Regions from separate parts of the Homo sapiens genome. Here all the other regions are linked to region 4. The links come from fine-mapping of genetic effects on gene expression. A gene starts in region 4. Each other region holds a variant in brackets. All regions are shown on one strand. Distances are from middle to middle. Region 1 has its middle 26 kb from the start of RPF1. Region 2 overlaps LINC01461 (long intergenic non-protein coding RNA 1461). Region 3 overlaps LINC01461 (long intergenic non-protein coding RNA 1461). Region 4 holds the start of CTBS (chitobiase).

The links. PIP is the estimated chance that this variant, and not a neighbour inherited with it, causes the effect. A credible set is the group of variants that fine-mapping cannot tell apart.
Region 1: its variant is the best candidate, but not a certain one, in a credible set for the expression of CTBS in whole blood (INTERVAL, PIP 0.75).
Region 2: its variant is the best candidate, but not a certain one, in a credible set for the expression of CTBS in whole blood (TOPMed, PIP 0.71).
Region 3: its variant is the best candidate, but not a certain one, in a credible set for the expression of CTBS in whole blood (TOPMed, PIP 0.81).

What each region holds. Positions count from the first base shown.
Region 1 is chr1:84,449,993-84,457,489 of GRCh38, reverse strand. No RefSeq gene overlaps it. Among named protein-coding and RNA genes, the nearest start is that of RPF1, 26 kb to the left of the region's middle. The variant C/T (reference allele first, on the strand shown) is at 4,047.
Region 2 is chr1:84,605,463-84,612,959 of GRCh38, reverse strand. The region is part of intron 2 of LINC01461 (long intergenic non-protein coding RNA 1461); the gene reads left to right. Among named protein-coding and RNA genes, the nearest start is that of LINC01461, 12 kb to the left of the region's middle. The variant A/G (reference allele first, on the strand shown) is at 3,156.
Region 3 is chr1:84,592,460-84,599,956 of GRCh38, reverse strand. It overlaps LINC01461 (long intergenic non-protein coding RNA 1461), which reads left to right. Exons shown (of 3, transcript NR_125761.1): 3 at 1,861-1,993. Among named protein-coding and RNA genes, the nearest start is that of CTBS, 22 kb to the right of the region's middle. The variant G/A (reference allele first, on the strand shown) is at 3,089.
Region 4 is chr1:84,570,303-84,577,799 of GRCh38, reverse strand. CTBS (chitobiase) reads left to right here and starts at 3,360. Exons shown (of 7, transcript NM_004388.3): 1 at 3,360-3,561; 2 at 7,080-7,218. The coding sequence starts at 3,385. RefSeq lists a silencer at 3,228-3,347 and enhancers at 3,508-3,797, 3,908-4,007, 4,721-4,770.

The DNA.
Region 1 (7,497 bases), 120 kb after region 4:
AATTCTGCTCAAGTCAGGTGCAGTTTGCTTCTAAGCTAAGTACCTTAATTTATATATCACCTGGGAGAATGATCAGCTTACTTTTATCTGCTGAAAATTGCTGGAAAATTTGTACTAAGGTTGTTGTACTCCTATCAGCATAGACAAAGCAGGCAGCCTTTCTCTCTCTGGGTCTTGGTGCTGAACCTGTGTGCTGGCAAGAAATGGGCTCACATTTGCTTTGCTCTCAGAACCTGTAGACCTTCTTCACTCTCCTTCTCTTCTCCCTTAGCCACCAACCTGAAACAGGAAGAATCTCTACTTGTGAAAGTCCTTTTAATTTTATATTTCTGATCATGACACTTTTTTATGTTTAGTATAGAAACATCTCCTTCACAAAAACACCCATGTTATCCCAAGACTTTGGAAGAAGAATGAAAAAGACTTGCAGCCCTCTTCTGCTTCCCATCCTGCCACAAAGCTACTCAGAGGCCATAAACACATAATTATCTATGTGCTTGAATGTTGGGGGATGGGAGGTTCAGGTTGAAGATAGAACAAAAATGAAAAGGCACAAGGAAAGAAAATAAAGCAAGTTAACAATTCACAATACCTCAGTAGCTTAGTAATAAAAATAATGGTGCCTTTCAACATATCTTTATTATCATTCTTTATAATCATTTTGTTTTTATGTTTTGTCTTATATTTTACCCACAGATGGAGAGTATAAATTTACTACTTCATATATTGGGTTGCTTTCCTGGGTACATAGTAGCTCTTTTAGTCACTGTAATATCAGCAATGATGATGCTTGTATCTGAAGATGAACAATAGTCATGCATTTTCCAAATCATCTGAAAGAGCTATTGGAAGCCACACTTCCCATCACACAGCCTGTCCATCTTCAACACTGGCTTTTCAGTCACTGGCTAGGGGTTATTTAGTCAACTTTTTCATGCACACCTTCGACTTCTGGCATGCAAAGCTTTCTGCATGCTTTTATGTAATGTGAATCCAGATGGTGGATTGTATGTGGGTGCAATAAATGACTGAATGTTTTCACATGTTTCTTGGCTGGAATTTATAATGGTGGAGTTTCTTTCCTAAGCCTCCACGACTGCCACATTCTGCAATAATTTTCACCAGATTACATAGATGTTCTGATAGAATCAGGGACCAAGGAAGCTAAAATGGTTCTTCCTCTAATCCTGATCACATCTCTTTCCCTCTCCTTAGCTAATTTATTTCTCTGCTACAGAAACTTGGAACTTTGCTGTACAGAGAAGACTGAGGTAAACAGGGAGAATAAACGCGCTGAAAGGAAGGGAAAGCCAGTAAAGGAAGTTGGAGAGATAATTGAAAATTTGAAAGAGAAGGTGGAATCAATACCCTTAAAATATTTTTAAGTATTCAAAAGCAAACAATTAGAATTAGTGAACGACAACAATAAAATACTAAAAAAGGGGCACTTATGCCTCCTCTCCTCATACACCTGCACCCCCGTTCCCCCATCCATTTCCCCTTCCCAAGCCATACTGATACATGATGTTTCAGCTGCATGTTGTGTTAGAGGCCATTTCACAAAAGTCACAATGGTCTTGAATGTTATTTTAATATGCATCTTAGAGCTATTGCTCATTTTTACAGTATTGGGATTCCTCTAATAAACAGAGAACTGCTTTGTCATTACTAAGCAGTGAAGTTATCCCTCTTACAGGGGACTGCTTGAGAAGATAACCAAAGACGGGAATCGAGATTTGGACCTACCTCTTACCACTATCCTCATGATGGAGGTAACTTATATTCTGGACCCTATAGGACCACTTTGTATTCTTGTTCATGTTTGTAGTTTACTTGCTGTGATTTCTTTTGTGAGATGAGGTCTCACTCTGTCACCCAGGTTGGAGTGGAGTGGTTTGATAATGGCTTACTGCAGCCTTGACCCCTGGGCTCAAGCAATCCTTCTGCCTCAGCCTCCTCCTGAGTAGATGGGACTACAGGCACATGCCACCATGCCTGGCTAAATTTTTTTTTTCTTTAAAGGGCTGGGTTTCCCAGCGTTACCCAGGCTGGTCTCAAACTCCTGGGTTCAAGTCGATCCTCTCACCTTGGCCTCCCAATGTTCTGGGATTACAGGTGCAAGCTACCGCTCCCAGCCTATGATTTCTTTTTACCTGTATATCCTTGGTAGTATTTGAAAACTTGTGTTTGACTTCATCTGTTTTCTTTGGATATGAATGTAGCTAGTAGTAATATAAATGGTAGTTTGCTTGAGTGGTGGCAAAGAAAGCCTATTTCATTCCTTTTATTATAGGTTTGCCTTCTAAGTGGAAGCTACCTTGAGATGAATTTAGCATTATTTTTGCTAGCAAATGCTTGTGTCATTCTGATATTTCTTTTCTCTCTCTCTCTTTTTTTGATTTCCTGATAAAATAATAAATCCCTTTATTCTTTCATCCAGTCGGCTTAGAAGGGGAATGTGAAAGATGACTTCATCCATTTTTTTCTTTGGAGATTTGCTTTACTAATTACCCAGGCTTTGATGTCCACATTTCCACATTTGTTACCATTCCTTGGTGCTATAGTGGATTTCTCTCATAATCTCTTATCCTTTTAACTTTACTTCCCAGAGGCAAAGGATTTGCTCTGTACCTGACTGCATTATGAAACACCTATTTGCCTGACCCACCCCTCCTCAGGCTGCACCACCCAGGACACTATGAAAATGAAGTTGCAACTGACTGGAAGTCAGCAGTACTACACCGGGTCCAGATGAACGTAAACCAACATGGAACCCCAAGGCCATGCTCTAGAGGGTCAGCTCTGAACCTCCTTGAAGTAAGTGTTCAGCCAGGTTATTAATTCGTTTAGTGTTGGTTTTTGAAATGCTACTTTATTGGGTCTTTAAAAATTTGATGCTTGGCATAGAGGACAAGGTCTCTAAATGTAGGACTTCACTGAATGAAGGTGATCACTACCAGGCTGTCTCTCTTTTTTCTGTTTATAAATGCCTTTTTCTCTTTTGTTGGCCTTTTTTTTTTTTTTTTTTTTTTTTTTTGACAGAGTCTCGCCCTGTCACCCAGGCTGGAGTGCAATGGTGTGATCTTGGCTCACTGCAACCTCCGCTTCCCGGGTTCAAACAATTCTCCTGCCTCAGCCTCCTGAGTAGCTGGGATTACAGGTGCCCACCACCACGCCCAGCTAATTTTTGTATCTTTAGTAGAGACAGGATTTCACCATGTTAGCCAGGCTGGTCTGAAACTCCTGACCTTGTGATCTGCCCGCCTTGGCCTCCCAAAGTGCTGGGATTACAGGCGTGAGCCACTGTGACCGGCCTTGTTGATATTTTATACTCTGTGCCTTGGAAGAAATACTTCCTAGGAATTTATTTTATTTTACAGCAGGCTGGCAAAAATGAAAAAGAGACTTGACAGGAAATGGAGGTAAAAATTCAAGGATTAATTAAATTCATACATTTTGTCTTAGATTTTATATGGCTCACAGACAATCTGTATAATTTGTCTGATTCTCACAGATTATCCCAAATGTTATTTATTATTCATTCAACAAGCATTTATTTATTTATTTATTTATTTTTGAGATGGAGTTTTGCTCTTGTTACCCAGGCTGGAGTACAGTGGAGCGATCTCAGCTCACCGCAACCTCTACCTCCCAGGTTCAAGCGATTCTCCTGCCTCAGCCTCCCAAGTAGCTGGGATTAAAGGCGCATGCCACCAAGCCCAGCTAATTTTTTATTTTTAGTAGAGACAGGATTTCTCCATGTTGGTCAGGCTGGTCTCGAACTCCCAACCTCAGGTGGTCTGCCCGCCTCGGCCTCTCAAAGTGCTGGGATTACAGGCGTGAGCCACGGCGCCTGGGCTAACAAGCATTTATGAAATTGAGCACTTTGAAAATAAAGAGGGAGAGATTTGAACTAGAAAGTGAGCTCCATGAGCACAGGATTTTTGTTTATTTTGTTCACTGCTCTATTCCTAGCACTTAGAACAGTGCCTGGCATGTAAGTGATACTCAATAAATATTTGCTGATATATAAATAAATGAATGAA[C/T]ACTACTGTGATTTAAAAATATTCATTTTAGAATAAGAGGTGTATTATGTACATCAGATGTAGGATTGTGAATATAATAAAGCCTATCAATTAGAAAAGGGCCCTAGAAAGACTTGACATGCAAGTGTCAGAGGAGATATGCTCCTTTGTGTTCAGAGTGGGCAGTTATTTGATGGTCCAGATGGTTTTACCTCAAAGGAAGAATGTGGTTAAATTTTTGTTGTTGTTGTCATTGTTGTTGTTTTTGGAGACAGAGTTTTGCTCTTGTTGCCCAGGCTGGAGTGCAATGGCGCGATCTCCACTCACCACAACCTCCGCCTCCCGGGTTCAAGCAATTCTTTTGCCTTAGCATCCCGAGTAGCTGGGATTACAGGCATGTGCCACCATGCCCGGCTACTTTTGTATTTTAGTAGACATGGAGTTTCTCCATGTTGGTCAGGCTGGTCTTGAACTCCCAACCTCAGGTGATTTGCCCGCCTTGGCCTCCCAAAGTGCTGGAATTACAGGCATGAGCCACCGTGCCTGGCCGAATGTGGTTAAATTTATCTTTTTCATTTTTACTCCTATTTAGAAGGTAAAAAGACTCTTATTTATAAAAACAATGAATTAGTTCTATTTATTAGTCTTTCTGTGTTCATTTAATGCCGGTGTCTAAGGAACCTAAGGCATTGACCAGGGGGTCTTATTAAACGTCACAGCTCAGCAAGGAAGTTGTGAGCAGAGCCAGCTCTTGGGGTAGGCAGTGTGTACTTCTGCCTATGGCAGAAGCTCCTACGGCAGTGCCATGCCAACTCTCACTATAGTTTCTGTTTTTGAATTTTGTGTTGGCTGTTCCTCTATTTCTGTATGTTTCTTAGAACCAGAAGTAAAGAGATGGGGAATTAGAGATGGAGATCTGCAATGCTGCTGAAGGGCTTGGCTGGCACCCTCTCTCACCCCCCTTCTTTCCTCTCTACCTAGTTCTGAGCATCTTTTTCCTCCTTTGATCCTCCAGTGGCAAAGTCAAAGTGGGCACCAAATGCAGACTTGGCCAAGTGAGCTACCCAGGTTGGGGGGGCACCATCACCTCTTTTTTGTTGTCTCAGGATTCACAACTTCAGAATAACCTTTTGGAAGTTAGGCTGTGTCTATGGCAGTAAGAACAGAAGTTCTGCCTTAGGCTTTAGCCATTATACTGTGCTATAAAGAGCATGTAACATAGCCTAATACTTTATGTTGCAGTTGAAGTGTTACGGGATTTTATTTTATAAGAACTTAAATCCAACACATAAATCTCTCTCAGATCAGCCAGGCTTTGTGTTTTTTCCTTTTGTAACTCATTCTGAGTTGATCTAAGACAAACATTCCTAAACTAGCTGGGTAGAAAGGACACTGTGGTGTAGCGGGAAAAGCCCAAGAAGGCAAATCAGGGCTCAGTTCTAGATTGGACTTGGTTGCTAACTAGCTTTTTATCCACAGTGAGTCAAGATTCTGGGCCTCACTTTCTTGGTTTATAAACTAAGAGAATTGCATGAAATGAACTATAGCACTGCTTTCAGCTCTCATCTATTTAGGCTCAAGACCTTTTGCCCCTTCTTTCTACCATTTTGAATAATGGAATATAAAGTGTTGGAAAGAATCCTAGCATTGGCTGAGTAAATGTTAGTTAAATCTGAGTTAAATTGAATATAGTCAACCCACTCAAGTTAATAGAGGAGGGAATTACATGAGTACAGAAAAATCAAGTTACTTGCTTAGGTCACACAACTAATTAATGGCAGAAACCTGACGTTCTAATCACAAATCATGAGTTTTTTTTCTCAGAAAAAACTTTGGTGATCACGGTGGGTGTAGAGGAAGCAGTAGTTTTCATAAAGGTGTTAAATTCTTATTTCTGCTAAGTTGGTTAGCATTGCCTATTATGACAATCCATGAATATCTTGTGCCAAAATGCTGCTGGCTGTTGTGCAGAGACACGTGTTGGTTGCTTTAGAATTAAACACAGACCAGAAACTCCTGGAGAAAAAAGGCCACCCCTTTTTTAATCACTCTCTTTAATTTTTCCTTCTGACTTAACTTTTAAAATTGGGCTGATTGTTCAAATAGTAGAAGAGGTTAGAAAAATCTGTTCAGGAAGACAAGAACCAGGAGTTCTAGTCCAGTCTCTACATGGGGTTTGGAGAATCTGGGTGGCCGAGTGGCATAAACTAACATGAAATTGGTAGCTCTCTTCTCCATACACTATTTCCCTGCTTAGAAATGAGTGTTGTCTAAGTATGAATTCATCTTCCTCTCCGAGGCTGGGCTCTTTCTGACCTCCCTGTTTCTTTGAACAGTGTCACTTCTTCAAGTTACTCACCCCTCAAACCTTAGTAATCTCTGACTCCTCCCCTTTCTCTGATACACTGAAACAGTTGCTAAACTTCATGGATTCCTCCTTCACAATGTGTCCTGCATTGGTTTTACTTCTTCATTCCTATTATTGTTCACATATGTCACTTAAAGTCATATCTTGTGAGTAGTTAAGAATGTGAGTTTGGAATCAGGTAGAACTGGGTTTGAGTCCTAGCTCTGCCACTTACTACCTGGTGTCATTGCTTAATCTCTTTGTTCCTTAATTACTTTATCTTTCAAATGGAAATAATAATTGTGTTGATCTCAAAGAATTGTGAGAATTAAAGAACATATGTAAAATACTTAGTACAGTGCCTAACATATAAGTGTTCTAGTTTTTTTTTTTTTTTTTTTGAGATGGAGTCTTGCTCTGTCGCTCAGGCTGGATTGCAGTGGCACCATCTGGGTTCACTGCACCCTCTGCCTCCTGGGTTCAAGCAGTTCTACTCCTCAGCTTCCCACATAGCTGGGATTACAAGCTCCCGCCACCATGCCTGGCTAACTTTTGTATTTTTAGTAGAGATGGGGTTTCACCATGTTGGCCAGGCTGGTCTCAAACTCCTGACCTCAAGAGATCCGCCTGCCTCGGCCTCCCAAAGTGCTGGGATTACACGCATGGGCCACTGCACCCAGCCCTGGATTCTAGTTTCTAGACTAGGCTTGACTAGGGGGAGGATGAGGGGTGAGAGACAGGAGGGCAGGAGAAGGTCAGAGAGAGACTTTGCTCTGAGGCTGCTTCTTAGGCCTTCACTTTGGGGTATTTTTTTTGAACCCCAACATTAGGCAAGAGCATATGGTTAAAGCTATCTTATTTGTGTATAATAGAAAAAAATTATATCTAACTTCAATGAACTTTGAAGTATCTTGAGTTTTCAATTAAAAAGATTCTGCTTTTAATAACAAAGCATGCTCGGGTTACCCTGATATCTGAAAAGTTTCCTGCAATCTACTTTTCATCAAATTCAAATATATGTCAACATTGATTTGATATAGAGGGGAGAATTGAAAAAGAAATGATGTGTAACAGTTGGAAGAGGGATCTTTGGATATACTTATAAGAGTCTAGGGAGAGCTCTGC
Region 2 (7,497 bases), 35 kb before region 4:
TACAGATCTCTTTTTCCTGATAAAATGTGCCCTCCTTGAGAACAGGAATATAAGCAGCTGTCATTGCATCTGACCCTTTCTGCATTTCTATTTGTATTCTCAGTCTGGCAAGGTGGAGTTGCTGAGGCAATGTTTGTCGAACTCGTGAATATTGATAATGGCTCCAAAGCTGCCTCCTCTCTTAGACCAGAGGGTTAAGAGTATGTAGACTCCGGCTATGTGGTAGCTCATGCCTCTAATCTCACTGAAGGAGCCTCATTGTCTGGGGTAAATACCAGGGTCCTTGGTCTCACAGTCAAGGAAATTGAGGTCACAGACACACACACAGAGTGAGATTGGAGCAGGAGTTTAATAGGCAAAAGGAAAGAACAGCTCTCTGTCACAGAGAGGGGTCCAGAGCAGGTTGTCAAGTTTTAGTAAAAATGTCAGGGTTGGCCAGGTACGGTGGCTCACACCTGTAATCTTAGCACTTTGGGAGGCTGAGGCGGGCAGATCACGAGGTCAAGAGATCGAGACCATCCTGGCCAACATGGTGAAACCCTGTCTCTACTAAAAATACAAAAATTAGCTGGGTGTGGTGGTGCGTACCTGTAGTCCCAGCTACTCGGAAGGCTGAGGCAGGAGAATTGCTTGAACCTGGGAGGCGGAGGTTGCAGTGAGCCAAGATCATGCCACTGCACTCCAGCCTGGCGACAGAGCAACTCTCTCTTAAAAAAAAAAAAGAAAAAAAAGAGGGAGTGTCTTATCTTCCTAAGGCCTGAAGATTTAGTTGGGACCAGGTGTCCTATGTGCATAGAGCAGAGTTTTCTATCAGTTCTTACCTCATTTCCTTGATCACATAGGCAGACTCAGTCCTTGCTGCTTTGTGCTGCTTTGTTTTGCTTATCTGGGAGGGAGAGTTTCTGTGTCTGTTCCCAGACATCTTCCTGCAGCTGCAGGCATCTCCCCACAATCCGCTTTTAGTTTCTCTATCTTAGTGTGCTTAAAGGGAAAGGAATGTGCTTATTAAGGCCCACGGTTTTTACTGGGGTCCATTGTAGGAGTGTGAAGTTTGGTGATTACCCAGGGGACTCCCCCTGTCCTTCTGTGCCCGAGTTGTTTGTTTTTACAGCCTGATCTTTCAAGCTGTTCTTTGTTAGAAGAGAAGTGATTTCTTTGAACTGCATGAGGTTAGAAAGAGAGCTATTTCTGAGCTGCTTTTTGTTAGAAGAAAAGTTTCTGCTGGGGACTCGCTTTACCCTAACTGTCTACCTAAATAAATTCTGTCTGTCTTGTATAACATATTTCCCCCTCAGGAATGGAATCCCTAACTGCTGTTAGGGGGAATTGGGCAACAACTTCTTCTGGCTACTTCCCGCTGGAGAGGGCGTGGTACGGGAACAGCATCTAGGGCTCCTCCTGGGGTCGATCTAAGGGTCCCTGGTAGAAGGGTGGTTTCCTTTTTGGCTCCATTTGCAGCACCATCTGAAGCTTGATGGTTTCTAGGTGAGAAGAGAAACTTTACAAGGAGGTTTAGAATATAGGGTCCAAATATATATAAGACTACCATTATTAGTGAGGCACTATAGGCCATAACCATGACAACAGAGTTTGTTTGATATCTGTGAGCCATTTAGATGGGTTGTGCTGTTGTAACTGGGTGTATGGGGCTTGGCTTTGTTTAGCTCCCTTGGTCTTACTGTCCCCGCCAGAAAAGGAAACCTTGGGGTTATAGGTTACCTGGCAGGATTTGCAGCATAAGTGCCCAGAACTAGCACATTGTTCCAGATTTTTATATTACCCATTCCTTTCTGTCTCCTTTGAGCCACAGCTGGAGATTGATGATTGGTTTACAGGAATAAGCATGATTAGTTTAAAATGTTGGCAAGAACTTACAAACAACTAATGAGACTAGAAGTCAATGACAGATTGTATTAGTCCATTTTCACGCTGCTGATAAAGACATACCTGAGACTGGGCAATTTACAAAAGAAGGAGGTTTAATGGACTTACAGTTCCACTTGGATAGGAAGGCCTCACAATCATGGTGGAAGGCAAAAGGCATGTCTTACATGGTGGTGGCAAGAGAGAAATGAGAGCTAAGCAAAACAGGTTTCCCTTTATCAAACCATCAGATCTCATGAGACTTATCTACCATGAGAACAGTATGGGTGAAACTGCCCCCATGATTCAATTATCTCCCACTGGGTCCTTCCCACAATTCTGGGAGTACAATTCAAGATGAGATTTGGGTGGGGACATAGAGCCAAACTATATCACAGATGTACAGTAAGTGTGGAACATAATTTCTCTCTCCAGTTCTCATTTTTATGAAAAACAACTTATGATAGGACTGAGCTGGTTGCAGAATAAACTTTAGTCCTATACTTGGCCTGATTATCTGCAAAAAGTACAGCAAGAATAATTACCTCTGTGTATTTTGATTGGTTTTGATAGAACTCTGTTCCACAAGGAATCTTGGATAGGACTTTTTGAAGCCAAGCCCAGCCATGAGTTTGTACCCTCAAATACCTGTGAGTTGGATAAACTTCTTTCTTCTTGAGGTTCCAGGAGCATGGGGTTTCCGGGCCTGTTAGAAAGTGACATTCTTTACGCACCACAGGTCAGGAACACTGTACAGAGACTGTGTAGACAAGGTATGCAGCCAGTTTTCCCAAAGGGCTTTCATTGGCTCTGCAAGTCAAAGCCTTGAAGTCAAAGCCTTGGTAAAACAATCAGTTTTTCCAATTGTGTTTTGTTGCAAAAGAAAATGGATTCTTGTTGCACTGATGCAAATAACTATATAGTTGTAATTCAAGAATACTTATAACTAGTTTCCAAATTCTAGAAGAACTAGGCAGAGAGAAACAAACATGCTCCAAACATTGTTTACAGGAGTATAGTTTACTTAGTTCTTAAAGGCTTTTAAGAAAATTTCCTTGACTCTGAAAAACAAAATAAGGATCACCAGTGTTACAAGCATAAATCAAGAATATTGCTTTAGTTTTCTATTAGTTCAGCCCATTCCATTAACTCTTGATCTGCTTGTTATTCATAAACATTTCAGCTTTGTATGAGTCCTATACATTTTTTAATCAAAAACCTGCATTTAAGAGCACCTATGTAAGTTCCACAGCTGATTAGAAACTATTTTTTTTAAGAAAAAGATTCAAACA[A/G]GACAACAATTGTTTGTAAATGACAAAATGTCCAGGGTGGTTACAGTCAAGAACATGATTGACAAATTTGGTTGTTTCTGTGGCTTACAATAACCTAACATAACAACCTTAATTGTGATTAATAGCGCGTATTATTCAGACACTAGTACCTTAGACATTCCATACAGTTTTGGAACATATGTTAATATTATTCCCTAAAATATAACCTGAAGAGTATTAGACATCATTTTGGCAATTCCATGTACCTAAACAAGTTAAATAATCCTATTTACCTCTCTTCTGGATGTTCTAGGAGCCCTGTGCAGAACAAAAAGCTAGGGGCTAGGAAAGACAACCTTGAAACTAAAGTTTGATTTTGGGAAGCCTGTTAAATATGTTCAAAATTTAAAACACTTGATATTAGATTACTGTAAGTTTTTTGTTTTGCCAAAATTATGAGTCAAAAATTTGAAAAAGCAAAAACCATTCATCAGCCCTTTCTATTACATGAAAATCCTATTCAAGAGAGAATGTTAAATTTCACCCTTGCATTTGTTTGCTATTAATGTTAACCCTGATTTTTAATGAAACTTTATAGACAATCCTATTCAATCTTAACCAGTTTGACCATGAGGTGAGATTTACACAAACCTTTTATGACCCTCTACAAATTTTGCTAAAGAGTAGATCAGCATTTTAAGAAAACCCTGTGCTTGCATTTTAATCCTTAATTTATAAAACTATATAATACCCCTTTGAAATTAGTTAATATGTTCATACACAGAGTTTCCTTTGCAAGATTAGTTTTTACAATCTTTTTACAATTTGCTTAAACCTTCTGCTTTATTTTATTTAAGACAATCCTTTATGGCTAGGCAAAATGTACATTTTCATGCCTTCTTATCTTTAATTAAAAACAGCTTTTACTGTTTTTTTACACACCTTGCATGCAAATCCATGTTCACTAGTCTCATTACATGTCATAATGGTAACACTTAGCAATTTTTAACTTTGATGTAAAACCTGGTAGGTTGTTTTAATTATGTGCTAGATGCAGATAAAGTTTGACTGCTTTCAGCATCATTAGGGGCATGGTTACTTCCATATGTTCCCAGGCCTTACCAATTGTGAAGCAGGCAAGTAGACAATATTTAAAGGCTAAAAAAGCAGTTACAACCTTAAAACATTTATCAAACCTAGTATCTGACCTGCATAATTTAGATCACATTTTTACATCCTGAAGACATTTGTATTTTACCAATAGTTTCTAAGACTGTTTTTATTTTTGAAGATTAAAGTTGTGTGAACTGAAAGGTACCACAGCTTTTACTTTTTCTTTAAAAATACTTTATTTAAGTGCTTATTTTTCTTAGTCCAATTAATTGGAGCTCTTTTCAAATAGACATTACACACATAACACATATATAACCACACAGACAAACAGAAAAAGATCCAGTGGTTCTAAAATTTTTCATTTGCTAATTTCCCAATTGGATTATTAGCCTCCTGGTGAGACCCTTTAAGAACAGGGCTAGGAATACAGTTTCCAGGGCCTAATAAACAAGCAAAGCTGGAAGACAAAGATAGATTTTGAGAACTACTTATTCACCTTTAATTCCAGGTGTTCCATGAGGAAAACAGATTTTTCCCAAAATGGGATTTGTGGCACCTTTTCTGTTTTCCCAAGGAGTCCCAGGCTACCAGAAGTCATTCTAGGGTCTTTCATGCATGCACCAAGAGTGGTAAGTCACAGTTTTCTCAGTTGACTGAGAAAAAAAGACCTTTTCCAGGAAAACAAGATCTATAAAGAGAAAAACATAAAGGCCTTTAAAATATACCCATAGGTTTGATATCCACTTTGAATTAAGCTGAGTGCTCTTTAGGAAAATCCTTTTTCACAAATAAAACTTTACAGTGAAGATAAACAGTGATTCTTACCATTTTTCCCCCAGTTTGCACCACTACTTGTTCACAATCATGTTTAGGTTCTCCAGTTTTCTCTGGGAGAAAGTGGCTGGGCTCAGGAAGTGGCAGGTTTTCAACTGGACTGCAGATCCCTTTAGCAGCAAAGCTTGATATTTGAGGAGGCAATTGTCTGTTAGCCAGACTTTCCTTAGAGGACAGTAGTCTTGTTATATTGCGTGGAGCTAAACAGTTAAGTTATTCCCCATTGTTAACCCATTGGCTGTAGAGCTGGACCTCCAGTCTTAGTCAAAACTCCCAGGGCTATTTTCTTCCTTTCCAATATACATAAAGATTAAATACCTTCCCTATGGGAAGGCTGAGAACTGGTGCTTTAAGCAAGGCTTGCTTTAGCTGGTTTAAGGCTTTTGTGTTTTAGGTTCCCAAGTTAGGGAGCTGCTTGAGTTTCTTTTAAGAGTTGGTATAAAGGATGAGCTATTTCACCATACCCTGGTGCCCACATTTTGCAAAATTCAGTAATGCCCACATTTTGCAAAATTCAGTAATGCCCAATAATTTTCTTAACTCTTAAAGGAAACGGGGTTAATCCTTTCCTCACCTGGTACTCTGGTTCCTTCTGTGCTGTGTCTGTCCCACAGACCTTGGCCGATGGGTGAAATGAGTACTCAGACACAGGTATGCAGTGTAAGAGCAGCTAGGTGACTGCCTGGCTCCAGTGGCCAGACAGCAGTCCCGAGAAGCTGGAGCTGTTTGCTTTTATTCAGTGCAGGCACAATGCCGAAAACCTGGAGCCAACACAACCTGCAGGTAATTAACATTTATTGTTCCCCTTTCAGGGAATGTTGCATGGGGATGATCCAAGGTCAGTTCCTGGTCAACATAAGTAAACAAACCGGTTTAAGATAAATTCCCCCACACTCCCTTGTACCTACTCCTTGCCCTCTGCCTTAGGGTTATAGAACAGCTGTCTTCAGCCATTCTTCCCTGGGGCTCTGCAGAAACTTCCGACCTTTCAGAAGGTTTGTGTCCTTTCCCTATAGTTTTTTCACCACCCTGACCGATCCCCCACACTTCTGATAAGATTAGGCCTAGGTACTTTACTGAAGTTTGACAGAGCTGAGCTTTAGATTTTGAGACCCTATACTCCCTTTTAGCTAAGAAATTGAGAAGAGTCTTAGTGCCTTCCTGAGACATCCTTGAATGGGGCACAGAGGAGAGTGTCATTTACATACTGCAAAGTTTCAACTTGAGAGTGAGAAAAACTAGAAAGATTTTTAGACATGGCCTGTTTCAGCAACTTCCTTTTGATATCAGGGGCTGCCTGAGTGATGAACCTGTTTTTTGTTGAATTGGAAGACAGGGAGGTGTGTTTTATTAAAGCTTCTCTCAGCCTTTCCAAAAAGGTAGGGAGATTTTTATCTGGTTTCTGATTCAATAAGGACAGTTTAGAGTAATTAAGAGGTTTGGTCCTAGTCCTTCTTAGGCCCTCTGATATGCACATTAAAAAGTATTTCCTTTTCCATTCATCTATGGGGTCACAGGGATTCCAGTCAGGATTGTCAAGAGGTATAGCCTCTCTCCCTATTGAGATTGTTTTTTTCTGTTATTTCCTCACCTTCCTTATCTCCCCTTTTCCTTTTTGGTCACTATAGGGAACATGTTGTTCATCTCCGAACTTTTCTGCTGCTTGCAGAGCTGTCTGCTTTTCAGCTGCAGTGAGGGTTTGGCTGAGAAACAACAGCACAACATCCCTCCATGTGAGGTAAAACACTTAAGTTAAATTTTGGAAGGCCTCTATATATCTATTAGGGTTATCAAGAAATCAGCCCATTTATCTGCCTAAGGTCCTGCAATGAGAAGGGAATAAGTACCTTAATGGTGCCCCTTCCATCTGGCATTTCTTGTAGGGGTAGGAGTGAAGTCTGGGCAGTGGGGAGCTTTGGAGATGGTGGAGCTGGAGGAGCTGATGGTGCAGCTGGAGGGGGCCCTGGACAAAGGGGACTGGAAGGACTGGGGCACTTAGAAGCTGCCTCTAATGGTTCCTCCAAAACTTGCTCTTCTGACTTAGGGGAACTACTCTCCACAGACCTGTCTGATATGATTGCTAAGAGGGCTGAGTTGGTTTTGCAATGCTTGCAAAGGTCTGGGTTGTCTCGCAGGGCAAAGGAAGCCTGCACATAGAGAACCTTGGACCATTTGCTCTTCCATCTACAGAAGAGATCTAATTGCTGGATAAGATTAAAGTTAAGGTTCCCTTTAGCTGGCCAGGTCTGTTCATTCCTGAGAGGGTAAGAAGGCCACACCCTTGTGCAACAGAAAATGAGCCACTTTTTCTTCAGAGTTTGGGTGTCAAAGGAGTTCAAAATGTACTCCAGCAGAGTGCAAGCCAAAATGACTTGCTACCCATCCTGGAAAAGAGACAAGAGGAGAGGCATCCCTC
Region 3 (7,497 bases), 22 kb before region 4:
TGGCTCACTGCAGCCTTGATCTCCCGGGCTCAAGTGAATTTCTCACCTCACTCTTGAGCAGCTGAGACTACAGGTGTGTGCTACTATGCCTGGCTAATTTTTCTTTTTTGGGGTGTTTGTTTGTAGAGACGAGGTTTTGCCATGTTGCCCATGCTGGTCTTGAACTCCTGGCCTCAGGTGATCCACCTTGGTCTCCCAAAGTGCTAGTATAACGGGTACACCTAGCCTCGACCATTTCTAATGCTGATATAAGTCTTTAGTCATATACAGTTTTTTCACAAATGCCTTTCAACAGGAAGGGAGCAGCTGTAATATCTCCAAAATAAATTTCTGACTCAGGCAGGATGCTTTTTATAACATCTATGAGTCAGAAGAACTAAGTTATAGAAACCAGACAGGGGCCCATTTCTTATCAATAATTTTGCTTGTTTAAATGTTTTTCCTCCACTTTCTCCCTGCTGTGACTGCAAAATCTATAGCTTTGTCAATTGTTTAAATTCTTCCCTAGAAGCGAAACTAATGATTTTCCATGTCTAATCAGTGAGAACAGTGCAAATTCTTCTTCCATCATGATCAGAATCTTCTAGGGTTATGGACTCTTTTAAACACAGATCTGAGTCACACATCAGAAAGCCTGTGGTCTTAAAACACTCATGCTCTCCTGAATTTTTCAGAGTTAACACTGGAGGAGACTCGCCCCCAAGTTTGCAGGGAGAGCTAAGTCTATATAGCATTCCTAAAGGGAGCCCAGAGAGGTCCTGTAAGGTGGAACTGGTGGGAGGGCAGGGAAAGGAGAGAAAGACGCTCTCTCTGCCCACACTCCTCCACACAACTCCATCAATCATCCCAAATCAAAAGAGAAAATTAGCCATATTATTTTACACTTGAGTCAATTCCGTGCAATCCAAGTGTTTCTTTTACCAGTTTAGTTGCTCTCTCAAATGCAAAATACTTTGGAAGTCATTTAAAAACTGCCAGAATAGTTCTTCCTGCACACTGGTTTCTGCCAACTCAATTTGAAATTGGCTCTCTCAGTTCTCTTTTTCTCATATGCAAGCAACTAGCCAGATCTCTACCTGCAGATGATAAAATGCTACCCCATGCAACTCCAGGTTTGCTTCTAAACCAGGTCAGGAGGCTGAGATCAAAACAATGAGGACCACTGGAGCCCCTGGGGAGTCTCCAAAAGGGTAATTAGGCTTCTGCCCAGGTCTGGTGGATTTCCCAAAGGCTTGTATTTTTTCAGAAATGGAGTGGAGGGGAATTGGGGAGAAATTACAGTAAGTGAAGGCCTTAAATGGCCTGGAAAATCTTCAAGGTGGTATGACATCATGGAAACCTCATCCAGCTCTTTGAAAGTGATCCCAACGTTTAGCACATTACAGGACTTAACACAAGGCAGATACTTGCTACATATTTATAGGATGAAAGAATAAACAGACTGCTAGAGTAAACTAAAAAACAATTCTCAAACACTAAGGATGTTTTCTCATATTTTCTTTCGAACGCTTTTGTTTGAAAAATGTTAGCATTTCCCATAATCTTGCTTCTAGATTTGATCTCCTCAAATTAATAAATATAAATGTTTCTGGCCCCCAAACCGCTATGATGGCAGCCCACCTCTCTGACCCTGTGAAATTTAAACATACCACGGAAGGCTGGAAATTTTATGCTTCTGAAAAGATGTTGAAAACCATCATCAACATATTCTGTAGTATCCTCCACATGCTGCATGTGACCATCAAGAAAACATAACTAGTCTGTGAACTGCGGGAGGTGCTCCAGGTTCGCTGACACTCCCCTCAGCTGCGGGGTAGGATGGCCAGATGACAGAGGGATTGTTCTCTCTCTTGTTTGCAGTTGGCAGTTTTGGAGTTTGCCCACCAGATATGCCATCCAAGAAGACCAAAAGTACAGCAGGATGATTGTGAACAAGACCAGGGACCTCAGCCCTTGCAAAAAAAGGTTGAAGACTATGTACATGAACGACATTCTAGGCTATCCTCAGGTGGGTTCCAAGACTAGGGCTCCCAGCTTCTTCCCTGGATCAACACCCAATGGGCGTGGCACTCAATACCTGCTCTTTAATCAGTGCTGTACTGATTTGATCAGTACTTTTCAAATTATGTCCTACGTTGTCTGAGATGTTCTACTCAGGAGCCCTGGTGAGGGATGATGTGTGAGAAAAATTCAAGTATCTCCTCTTCTAAATTGAGAAGTCCTAGCCTTTGTCTTAAAATTGATTTTGTGTGTTAGGCTTTCACTTTTTTATTAGATGGTAAATGCTCCATTCTTCAAACAACAATGATAGCTCAGGAGGCCAAGAATATGTGTTCTGATTTGTTCCTGAATGTCACTGCGTCTAACATGAGACTCTGCTTCCACAGGCACTTAACACATACTTATGAGACTGCTTTCTCTCAACTTCATTTCCACATGGAAACATTTGGAACCGAGTTTCCATTCCTGTGACTTTCATTGTGGGAAGACAGAAAAGAACCCAGCCCAGATTTTTCATTAAGCATGTTTAACACAATAATAGTGAGATGAAACTGAGGGTGAGAGGTTTTAAACCTGTGATGTTGTGCTCTTTTATGTAGGAGAAACAAAGTTCTGTTTTGCCTGGCATCATGGGAGAACTGTGATTGCCTGTTTGATATTGTGTAGATAAGCTAAGCTTGCACAAACTATTGAGATGATTGCCTGGCATGGGACATAAAGGAGTCATTAATTTCATTCCTAAGTGACAGGAAAGCAATAGCCATGCCTCTGGTTGGTTTGTACTTACACAGAGAGAAGTCTACAAAAGGGAGAGCTTCACTTATATACAAATGAACTCTGAAGAGCCACTGAAGTGCCCTGATCACTGAAGTTGTAACCTAGCAAGTGACCCAGCCTTCACTGAGCTGAATGAGGTTGCCATTTCCCAATTAAAGTAGGACCCGGGATGGTAGAACATCAAGGATCAGGAGATTTTCATTTTCAGCTCTACCGCTATTAGCTGTGTGACTATGAAAAAGTCATTTTGCCTGTTTAGGCTTCAGTTGTATCGTTTGTAAAATGGGAGTCATAATAACTCCATCAAAAG[G/A]TTATTGCAAGAAATAAATATCCCAAAATGACTACCTGACATCACAAATGATCAATTTAAGGTTGTCATTTCATTGGAAAAACGTGGTCAAATCGGTTGATTTGTGTCTGTGGCCCAAAGAAATTGTTACTAAAGTATTCATTTTTCCTCATTATTATGATTGGAAAGTGTCCTCTCCAAGATTCATGTTGGAACTTAATCTCCAAAGCAATCCTATTAAGAGGTGGGGTCTTTAGGAGGTGATCCGGTCATGAGGACTGCTCCCTCATGGATGGGATTAAAGCCCTTAAAGAATAGCCTTCACACATGGTTTGAACCCTCTTTGCCCTTCAGCCTTCTGCCATGTGAGGATGTGGCACAAAGGTGCCATTTGGGAGCAGAAACTGGACCCTCACCAGACACCAGACCTGCCAGAGTTTAAGAGCATTAGAGGCCACGGTAAGGACTCTGTATTTAATTTGGAATGTGATGGAAAGTGGTAAGATTTTTTTTTCATTTTTCGTTTCTGTTTTTGTTATTTGTTTCAATTTTTTGAGATGAGGTCTCTCTATGTTGCCCAGGCTGGACTAGAACTCCAAGGTTCAAATGAGTCTCCTGCCTCAGACTCCTCAGTAGCTGAGACTACAGGGGTGCACAACCACACCCACCTGGAAAGTGGTAAGATTTGATTTATGATTTTGAAAGATACTTCTGGCTGCTTTGAGGGAATAAGAGGTTCAAATAGAAGGCTATTACAGCCAGCCCAAAGAGAGGTGATGGTTATTTGGACTAAAGTAGTACAGGAAGGAGGACCTTGCATGGTTTTTCATCATAAAGTTCAATGCTGTAATCAGGGACTGTTAATATGAAACCATTTTTCTCATGCTCAACCATAACATGGGGCTCTATAATGAAAAAGAAAAATTCAAGTAGAAAAATTGGATTCTAATATTCCCTATCATGTCTCTATTATTTTTAAATATTAAATATAATTTTATATGGAAAATTATGTTTCACATAACACAAGTTCGTGGCCATGGAGGCTGCTGTTGAGGTGGCAGCTGCTGCTGCTGTGTCAGAGCTCGAGGTGTCACTGACCTGCTGCCGCTTTTGCTACTGTCTTTGCTTTTGAAACCTTTCATTTTTTGAATCCTAAAAAACCAAAATATTTTTCAAGAATATAATAGGACACAAAATCTTTTCACAGAATTTACAGAAGTGCCACTAACAGTCTGGAAATGTTTCTCTGACACAGTTTGTGTGTATGAGTGTGGGTGTTTTATTTTTAAAGCTTTGAGAGTATAATCTGTTATTTTGAAGGAAGACGCACTCCTCAAAAATAATTGGGGTTTACTTGATGTAAGATCAAATCTTTAGGAAAGGTTTTTTGTTGCCTTTTTTTTAAACTTTAAGTTCAGGGCTACATGTGCAGGATGTGCAGGTTTATTACATAGGTAAACGTGTGCCATGGCGGTTTGCTGCACACATCATCCCATCACCTAGGTATCAAGCCGAGCATTCATTAACTATTCTTTCTGATATTCTCCCTTTTATCTTCTCCACCCTCCGACAGGCCCCAGTGTGTGTTGTTTCCCACAATGTGTCCTTGTGTTCTCATCATTCAGCTCTTACTTATAAGTGAGAACATGTGGTATTTGGCTTTCTGTCCCCGCATTAGTTTGCTGAGGATAATGGTTTTCAGCTCTATCCAAGTCCCTGCAAAGGACATAATCTCATTTTTTATGGCTGCATAGTATTCCATTGTGTATATGTACCATATTTTCTTTATCTAGTCTATCATTGATGGGCATTTAGGTTGATTCCATTTCTTTGCTGTTGTGAATACTGCTGCAATTAACATATGCATGCATGTGTCTTTATAATAGAATGATTTATATTCCTTTGGGTATATACCCAGTAATGGGATTGCTGGGTCAAATGGTATTTCTGCCTCTAGGTCTCTGAAGAATTGCCACACTGTCTTCCACAATGGTTGAACTAATTTACACTCCCACCAACAGTGTAAAAGCGTTCCTTTTTTTTCCACAACCTTGCCAGCATCTGTTGTTTTTTGACTTTTTAATAATAGCCATTCTGACTGGTATCTCATTGTGGTTTGGATTTGCATTTCCCCAATGATCAGTGATGTTGAGCTTCTTTTCATATGTTTGTTGGGCACATATATGTCTTCTTTTGAGAAGCATCTGTTCATGTCCTTTGCCCACTTTTTAATTTTTTTGTTGTTGTTGTTAATTTATTTAAGTTCCTTGTATACCTTTGTCAGATGGATAAATTGCAAAAATTTTCTCCCATTCTGTAGGTTGTCTGTTCACTCTGATGATAGTTTCTTTTGCTGTGCAGAAGCTCTTTAGTTTAACTGGATCTCGTTTGTTGATTTTTGCTTTTGTTGCAATTGCTTGTGGAGTCTTCATGATGAAATCTTTGCCCATGCCTATGTCCTGAATGGTATTGCCTAGATTTTGTTCTAGGGTTGTTCTAAGGTTTTTATAGTTTGGAGTTTTACATTTAAGTCTTTAATCCATCTTGAGTTGATTTTTGTGTATGGTGTAAAGAAGAGGTCCAGTTTCAATTTTCTGCATATGGCTACCCCGTTCTTCCAGCACCATTTATTAAATAGGGAATCCTTTCCCCATTGCTTGTTTTTGTCAAGTTTGTTGAAAATTAGATGGCTATAGGTGTGTAACCTTATTTCTGGATTCTTTATTCTGTTCCACTGGTCTATATGTCTGTTCTTGTACCAGTGCCATGTTGTTTTGGCTACTGTAGCCTTGGTAGTATAGTTTGAAGTTGGGTACTATGATGCCTCCAGCTGTGTTCTTTTTGCTTAGGATTGTCTTGGCTATTCGGGCTTTTTTTTGGTTCCATATAAATTTTTAAATAGTTGTTTCTAATTCTGTGAAGAATGTCAATGGTAGTTTTATTAAAGCATTGAATATATAAATTGCTTTGGGCAGTATATGGGCATTTTCACAATATTGATTTTTCCTATCCATGAGCATGGTATGTTTTTCCATTTGTTTGTATCATCTCTGATTTCTTTGAGCAGTGGTTTGTAGTTCTCCTTGAAGGGGTCCTTTACTTCCCTTGTTAGCTGTATTCCTAGGTATTTTATTCTTTTTGTGGCAATTGTGAATGGGAGTTCATTCATGATTTGGTTCTCCACTTGCCTGTTGTTTGCATACAGGAATGCTAGCAATTTTTGCACATTGATTTTGCATCCTGAGACTTTGCTGAAGTTGCTTATCAGCTTAAGAAGTTTTGGGGCTGAGAAAATGGGGATTTCTAGATATAGGATCATTTCATTTGTAAACAAAGATAGTTTGGCTTCCTCTCTCCTTATTTGAATAGCCTTTCTTTCTTTCTTTCTCTTGCCTGATTGCCCTGGCCAGAATTTCCAGTACTATGTTGAATAAGAGTGGTGAGAGAGGTCATCCTTGTCTTGTGTCAGTTTTCAAGGAGAATACTTCTAGCTTTTGCCCATTCAGTATGATATTGGCTGTGGGTTTCTCATATATAGCTCTTATTATTTTGAGGTATGTTTTTTTAATACTGAGTTCATTGAGAGTTGTTAACATGAAGGGATGTTGAATTTTATCAAGTCCTTTTCTGCATCTATTGAGATAATCATGTGGGTTTTGTCTTTAGGTCTATTCATGTGATAAATCACATTTATTGATTTGCATATGTTGAACCAACCTTGCATCCTGAGGATGAAAGCTCCTTAATTATGGTGGATAAGCTTTTTTTTTTTTTTTTTTTTTAAGACCGGGTCTCATTCTATCACCCAGGCTGGAGTGCAGTGGCGCAATCTTGGCTCACTGTAACCTCTGCCTCCTGGGTTCAAATGATTATCCTGTCTCAGCCTCTTGAGTAGCTGGGATTACAGGAGTGTGCCACCACTGAGACAGTGTCTCACTCTGTCCCGCAGGCTGGAGTGCAGTGGCACAATCTAGGCTCACTGCTACCTCTGCCTTTCAGAAGCAAGTGATTCTCATGCCTCACCTTCTGATTAGCTGGGACTACAGGCACATGCCACCACACCCAGCTATTGTTTTTTTTTTTTTTTTTTTTTTGTATTTTTAGTAGAGACAGGGTTTTGCTGTATTGGCCTGACTGGTCTTGAACTCCTGGCCTCAAATGATCCACCCGATTTGGCTTCCCAAAATGCTAGGATTACAGATATGAGCCACCACACCCGGCCTGCTTAAGCTTTTTGATGCGCTGCTGGATTTGATTTGTCAGTATTTTGTTGAAGACTATTGCATTGATGTTCATCAAGGTTATTAGCCTGAAGTTTTCTTTTTTGTTGTATCTCTGCCAGGTTTTGGTATCAGGATGATGCTGGCCTCATAGAATAAGTTAGGGAGGAGTTCCTTGTTTGCTATTTTTTTGGAATAGTTTCAGTAGAA
Region 4 (7,497 bases):
AGTGGTTTTCTGGACAAATCATACACCCAGATCACCCTACAGTGAAATTCAAAGTTAAAAGCACCAGCTATCTACTTGGAGCTTCCTCTCTTTGTACTTTTTAATTTTTACTTTTAATCATGGACAGCAACCAAGAAAATCCAATAATGTAGAAGGAAGGGACCCAAACAACAGACAAAGGAATATGGAGGAAGCAGATGCTGCAGGATTGGATTAACTGTAGTACGTCCCAACAATGAAGTATTATTCAGTGCTAAAAAGAAATGAGCAATCAAGCCATGAAGGGACATGGAGGAACCATAAATGCGTATTACTAAGTGAAGGAAGCCAATCTGAAAAGCTATATACTGTAAGATTCCAACTATGTGACATTCTGGAAAAGGCAAAACTATGGAGACAGTGTAAAAATCTGTGGATGCCAGTGGTTAGCAAGGAGAGAGGAATGAATAGGTAGAGCACAGATAATTTTGAGGGCAGTGAAACTATTCTGTATGATACTATAATGCTGGATACACATCATTATACATTTGTCAAAGCCCATAGAATGTACAGCACCAATATAAAATTCAATACAAATATGTAGGAATTCCTCATTTGGTTAGTATGCAGAAAAGAGTTACCGTAACAGGCCTAAGACTGCGATCTTTAGAAAGGCCTGCTTCCTGAAGGTTGGCCTGTAGGTGGATTTGGGAGTGTTCCTGCTGTTCCCTGAGTCTCTAATGAGCTTCCATGGCAGACAGCCCTTCACACATGTTACAACGTGATGCTTGTGCTTGGCCTCCTCCTGTCTTCTTCCTGTGCACTTTTTCCCTTTGCTCTTTTGCTTCATATTCTTCTGCTGTAATAAATCTTAACTGTGAGTACAACTGAGTCCTATGAGTTCTTTTAGTGCATCACTGAACCTGGAGGTGATCTTAGGGATCCCTAACACAGGTAGATATGTGTTTTCTTCTGTGTCACAGAATACAGTCTGATTCTATGAGTCAGAAGGCTCTTTTCCTTGAAAACTTGATTCAGTGCAACCATTCATGTTAAAAACATAGTTACATTTCAGTATCATGAGGGATTGGTTCCAGGACTCCCAGATACCAAAATCCATGGATGCTCAAGTCCCTTATATAAAATGGCATAATCTATGCACATCCTCCTGTACTTCAAATAATCTCTAGATTAATTATAATAATACGATGTAATGCTATGTTGACAGTGCTCTTGCCGTATTTTTATTTGCATTTTTAAATTGCTGTATTATTTGTTATTTTTAAATACTGTTATCTGACATTGGTTAAAACCATGGATGTGGAACCTCTGGTTATGGAGGTTCAATTGTACTTTTTTTTTTTTTGAGACAGGATCTTGTTTTGTCACCCAGGCTGGAGTGCAGTGGCATGATCATAGTTCACTTCAGCCTCAACCTCCCGGCTTCAAGCAATCCTCTCATCTCAGCCTCCCGAGCAGCTGGGACTACAAGCTTTTACCACCGCACTGGCACACAGGGCTAATTTTTTGCTTTTTATTTTTTGTAGAGACAGGGTCTATGTTCCCCAGGCTGGTCTCAAACTCCTGCCCTCAAGTAATCCTCCTGCCTTGGCCTGCCAAAGTTATGCAATTGCAGGTGTGAGCCACAGTGCCTGGCCTAGCTTTTCATTCTGAAAACGCGTGTTCTTCAGTCCTGGAGCCTTGATAATTACTTATTTCTTTTCTTTTCTTTTTTTTTTTTTTTTTTGGAGACAGAGTCTCACTCTGTTGCTGAGGCTGGAGTGCAGTGGTGTGATCTCTGCAACCTCCACCTCCCAGGTTCAAGCGATTCTCCTGCCTCAGCCTTCCGAGTAGCTGGGATTACAGGTGTCTGCCACCATGCCCAGATAATTTTTGTATTTTTAGTAGAGATGGGGTTTCACAATGTTGGCCAGGCTGGTCTCAAACTCCTGAGCTCAAGTGATCTGCCCACCTCGGCCTCCCACAGTGCCGGGATTACAAGCATGAACCACTGTGCCCAGCCCAAATTACTTATTTCTTCTTATTTGTACTACGCTGCTTCTCAAGCACCTTTAAGAATTATTTATTTCATCCCCTCTGTACTGCGTTTTCCAATTTTCTTATCTTTCAGAGTTTTTGCTCTACATTCCTCAGTGTTATCTTCTACTAATAGTTTTTTCACTTCTTTCTTATTTCTATTAACTTTTAAAAATCCCCTACCCCTTTTATTGCACCCTGTTGTGGCTTCATCTTCTCTTATTTTTCTGGGGCTATTATGAGAATTTTTAAAAGTGTTCTCCCTGCAGCATCTGCTTCCTCCATATTCCTTTGTCTGTTGTTTGGGTCCCTTCTTTCTACATTATTGGATTTTTTTGGTTGCTGTCCATGATTAAAAGTAAAAATTAAAAAGTACAAAGAGAGGAAGCTCCAAGTAGATAGCTGGTGCTTTTAACTTTGAATTTCACTGTAGGGTGATCTGGGTGTATGATTTGTCCAGAAAACCCGATGTCAGTATCTTTGCTCAGCCTCTTAGGTTAATCAGATAGCGAGGGGTTTCAGTTTTCAGTAGGCATAAAGCCACTTATTCTCCGTTTTAGGTGGAATACCCACTCAGCAGAGAATTTATCCCCTTCAGGGAATTCAGCCGGGGTGGGAGCCCGTGGTGGGAAAGAGGGGCAGCTGCCCAGAGACATGAAGCTGGAAAAAGGATCTAGCGATCAGAGTCCTTGAGCAGCCTTTGACTAATCTCCCCCTTTTCCGATTTACCTCTCATACTCATACTTGTGCTCTCCAGCTTCCAACATTTTGTTGCTGTTATCTCTTTGTCCTTGTGTTTAGGTTGTTAAACTTGATTTTTAACAGGAGAGTAGGCAAAATTAGATGCTTGAATTCAAACCACGATCTTAACTAAGACCTGATATCCGTAAGTAAAAATTTTTGGTATTCCAGCTTTCTTTTGAGTAGCAAAAGAAAAACAAAGTCTTTTGGCCACTCCAACCATGTTACTCAGTAGGCCCTTCCAAAGACACCCACTTCTCCATTTTGGGGATCCCCTTGTACCTTCAGACTCCACAAGGAGTACACGACCAGCCACGACAAAACGAGATGCAGACTATTGGGAGGACTATAAACGGTAGGGGTGATACCCATTTGAGTCCACGAACGGCCCTCTCGGCGCCGCAGACACTGGCTGTCCCCCGAGACGCTCCAGCAGCCACTTAACTTCACCCACCTGTAGCGCCCGGGGACGCTCGAAGCCCGACCTCCCACGCCCGCCCCGGAGCCCCGCCCCTCCCGCCCCTCCCCGCCCTTCCCGACTCTCCCCGCCCCTTCCTGCCCCGACGCGCAGCAGGCCCCGCCCACCCAGGCGGTAGGAACCCACTCCGGCCCGCTAGACCTGCTGCTATGTCCCGGCCGCAGCTTCGACGCTGGCGCCTCGTCTCTAGCCCGCCGAGCGGCGTCCCGGGTCTAGCGCTGCTGGCGCTGCTGGCGCTGCTGGCGCTGCGGCTCGCGGCCGGGACCGACTGCCCATGCCCGGAGCCTGAGCTCTGCCGCCCGATTCGCCACCATCCAGATTTCGAGGTCAGCGCCTTCCTCTGCTCCTCTAGGTCTGGGCTTCAGGGCACGAAGAGAAGTTAGGGTAGAACGGAGCCCTAAGGAGAGGTGCCGTGGGCGCCGAAACCAGCTTTGACCACTCGATGAGGGCCTTCCTGTTTACGGATCCTTCAATTTATAGATGAGGAAGCTCGGGCTCAGAGAAGTTGAGTAACTCCTCAGGCCTCACAGCCTGTAAGTGCCTGCGTAGGCAGGCGAGAGTTCAAACCAGATCTGCCTCCTAAGGCAAGCTCCTTTCATTCCCCTGCTGTGCCTCTGCGGAAGCACTCTGGGTGTAAAAAGCAAACAAGGTAGGATAATCCATTTATGTTTCCAAGGAACGAGGATTTCGTTTGAAAGAATCTCAGCACTCCAACAGTACATTAGAATGCAGAGTATTTTGCTTACCTTTAGTTTTCTATACCTGCTAGCCCTTTCCTTTAAAGTACCTCAAAACCACCCATGAAGAGTGGTAAAAAAAATAGCTTTCAGTACATTTTCCTTCTATCTACATAACAATTTGTAAGGCTTCTGGCAACTTTAATCAAACACCTTCTGGAGCAATATTAAAACCACCTGACTGCCCACTTCGATGACTGAAAGCAGGAATTGGATGACATCAGGAAGGTCCAAAGGCTTAATTCAAAGAACGATTCTTTTGTAGAAATAGGCATGATTCCTAGTTCTTAATCTAGTACATTAATCTGAGGCAGAACACTTAGATGCCAGTAAAAAAGTATATATACATGACTTAGGAGAAGAAATAAAAATGGTGAAAGTGTTTATGGAGAACCTGCCTAGTGTGGAAACCTAACATCTTATTAAAAGAAAGACTTCAGACAAAGTAGGATAACCTTTTTTATTTGAGCAAAGAACAACTTATGAATCGGCAGTACTTAAACCAGAAGGGGTTCAGAGAGGTCTGCTTTAGTAGCATGGGCTTTTATAGGCCGAACAGGGAAGCAAAGGAAAATAATTACTTGGTTGGCTATGACTGTTTGCCTTATTTAGCTATGACTTGGTGGAAAATTACTAGTTAGAGGTTAGTTGGCAGTTTCTGATAGGTTAAGCTTAAGTTTCCTTTCACTGTTGACCTTGGGCTGGAGTTTGCTTAAGCAGGAAATCCAAGGCAGTTGGAGCTGTTTCAGCATAATGGCCTCCCAATTAAAATGTTTTATACAATCTGAGGCCCAGCGCGGTGGTAGAGGCAGTGGGGACAGTAGCTGTAAAAGTTCAACCAGACATTTCTTAATTTTCTCAATCTCTTTTTGAGATTGAGAAGCACTTTGTGAGGCCAAGGTGGGTGGATCACTTGAGGTCAGGAATTCGAGAACAGCCTGGCCAACATGGTGAAACCCCGTCTCTACTAAAAATACAAAAATTAGCTGGGCGTGGTGGCGGGCACATGTAATCCGAACTACTTGGGAGGCTGAGGCAGGAGAACCGCTTGAACCTGGGAGGCGGAGCGGGAGGCGGAAGGTTGCAGTTAGCCAAGATCACGCCACTGCACTCCAGCCTGGGCGACAGAGCAAGACTATGTCTCAAAAAAGAGAAAAAAAAAAAACCTGAAAGATTTACTGTAGTACCCAATACTTAGTGGGTTAGGCAATATCTGTGGGCACTTTGAAAACCAACTATTCAAAGAAGCAAAATTATGCTTATTTGTATCTTCATGGTAAATGGTCTTTTTCTCTACTGGCGTTTTCTATGTTTTTCAAACACAAAAACTAGACTACATGGCATTTTCCCCTTATATTTTCAATTAGTTCACCCAGCTTTTTTTTTTTTTAAGGATATCTGTTATATCACAGGCTCTTAGTATTTTTTAAACAAATAGAATCTTAATTATCAGAACTAAAATAGAAGTTTTGATAGAAATATGAGTCAGAAAACAATGGGCCACTTAATTTCACATTATGAATTTTTATTATTTCAGTAGGCAATTGCTTAGCAGAAAAAATGAGTTATGCATAATTAATTCTGAAAAGTTAAAAAAAATTAAAAAAAATTAAGAAATGCCTGGTTTAACTTTTACAGCTGCTATCCCCACTGTCTCTCCCTCATTCATTCCCCTCACAAGGACCCAGTGATCTCTTTTGTAATGCATATCCCCTGAATTAAAACTCTAATTGATTCCCACTGATCCCAAGATAAAATACAACATCTTCAGTGGTCTTGGAAGTCCTACTTAATCTTTCCACTACCGACTTTAAAGGTTTTATCCAGTTCCACATACTTGCAGGATTTCTGTGCTCTACCTACATTGACCTTTTTCAGTTCCAGAATCTCAGAATTCTCCTGAGGTGTAGCGACCTTTGGGCTTTCCCTTCCCTCAGTTGAGAATGCAATCTTTTGTCCATAGGTATATCTCTTCCATCATTCTGCTGATTTCAGCCCACTCCGAAAGTGTGTAGTCCTCAGAAAAGTTTTCGTGCACCATCTGGCTAGCAGGTCCCCTTTATATGCTGGCGTGGCCCCCTGTAACCCCTACAGTCCTTAATACCATTGTAATTAAGTAGTTAACTCCTTACTGGACCTGGTCTCTCTCATTAATCTTTATCTCCTTAGAGCCTAGCAAAATACTCTCCTTGTACCTTATTGGAAATTCAATAAATATTTGCCAAATCAATGAATTAATGCCTTGGAATAAAATAAAAATAATCAGTGAGGCTTCTGTGCTTCTTGAATTAACTGTGGGAAGAAAATATCAGAGAAACACAACATCAGGTGCCTTAGAATTTGACCTAGGTACTATTCTAAGAAGCTAGCTTCACCAAACAAACAAAAAACAGTAAATGTATTTATGGCTCCATCTGCAGTAGCCAGAAACTTGAGTATTATCAGACTTCTCTCCTTTGATTACTCATTCGATTAGTCACAAAGTCCTGTCAATTTTGCCTCCTTAGGATCTTCCAGATCTGTTCACTTAACGCCACTGCTCCACAATTTTAGTTGAGGTCACCATCATCTCTTACTTGGATTCCTCCAACAGTTTCTGTATTCTGCCTCCAGTTTTGGTGTCTCTTTAATCCTTTTCCCACTGCAGCTGAAAATATTTTTCTAAAATGCATACCTTCCCCTTTTAAAAATGCTTTTATTCTCTCCCTTTACCTCAGGATAAACAAGGTAGTACTAACTTCTCAACAGAGCTTATGAGGCCTTTCATGATTTAATCCATGCCTACTACTCTCTGGTCCTTCACTAATGCTCTCTCCCCAAATTCTAGACGTCGGCCATACTAAATATTTAGTTACGCAACCACCATGTTGTCTCTGCCTCCAGGCCTTGGCACTTGCCACTCTTCCTTCCTGGCCCATCCTTCCCCTCTTTCCCAGCCTGGCTAATTACCCCTGCCACCAATTATCTTGGGACCCCTATGTCTTATGCACTTGTACTCTCACTGCCACCATAGTGTTTGGTGTATGGTGATGTTTGATGAACGGTATTTTGGACGGTCAGCATAATATTCTTGGTTTAAATGATGGTGCTCATCTTTGTTCTGGCAGGTCTTTGTGTTTGATGTTGGACAGAAAACTTGGAAATCTTATGATTGGTCACAGATTACAACTGTGGCAACATTTGGAAAATATGACTCAGAACTTATGTGCTACGCTCATTCAAAAGGAGCCAGAGTAGTACTTAAAGGTATGTTGTTTCCAGATCTATGTGTGCAGCAATTGGGAAATTTATCTGTATCACTTGCTATAGTCCCGACTTTCCAAAAAAGTCCTTTTATGTTTATCTGTTTTTGTTAGGATCCTATAATTAATCTTAGATACTGTGTAATTCATTTCACAAACACAGATCTTTTTAAAAGAATTAAACCACTGTATGGTTTTGAGCAAAATGTTAACTGCCAAATTAGCCTTATGACCTTTACTTAATCATAGTCCACAATTTCTGTTTCTAACTTCAGAACAATTT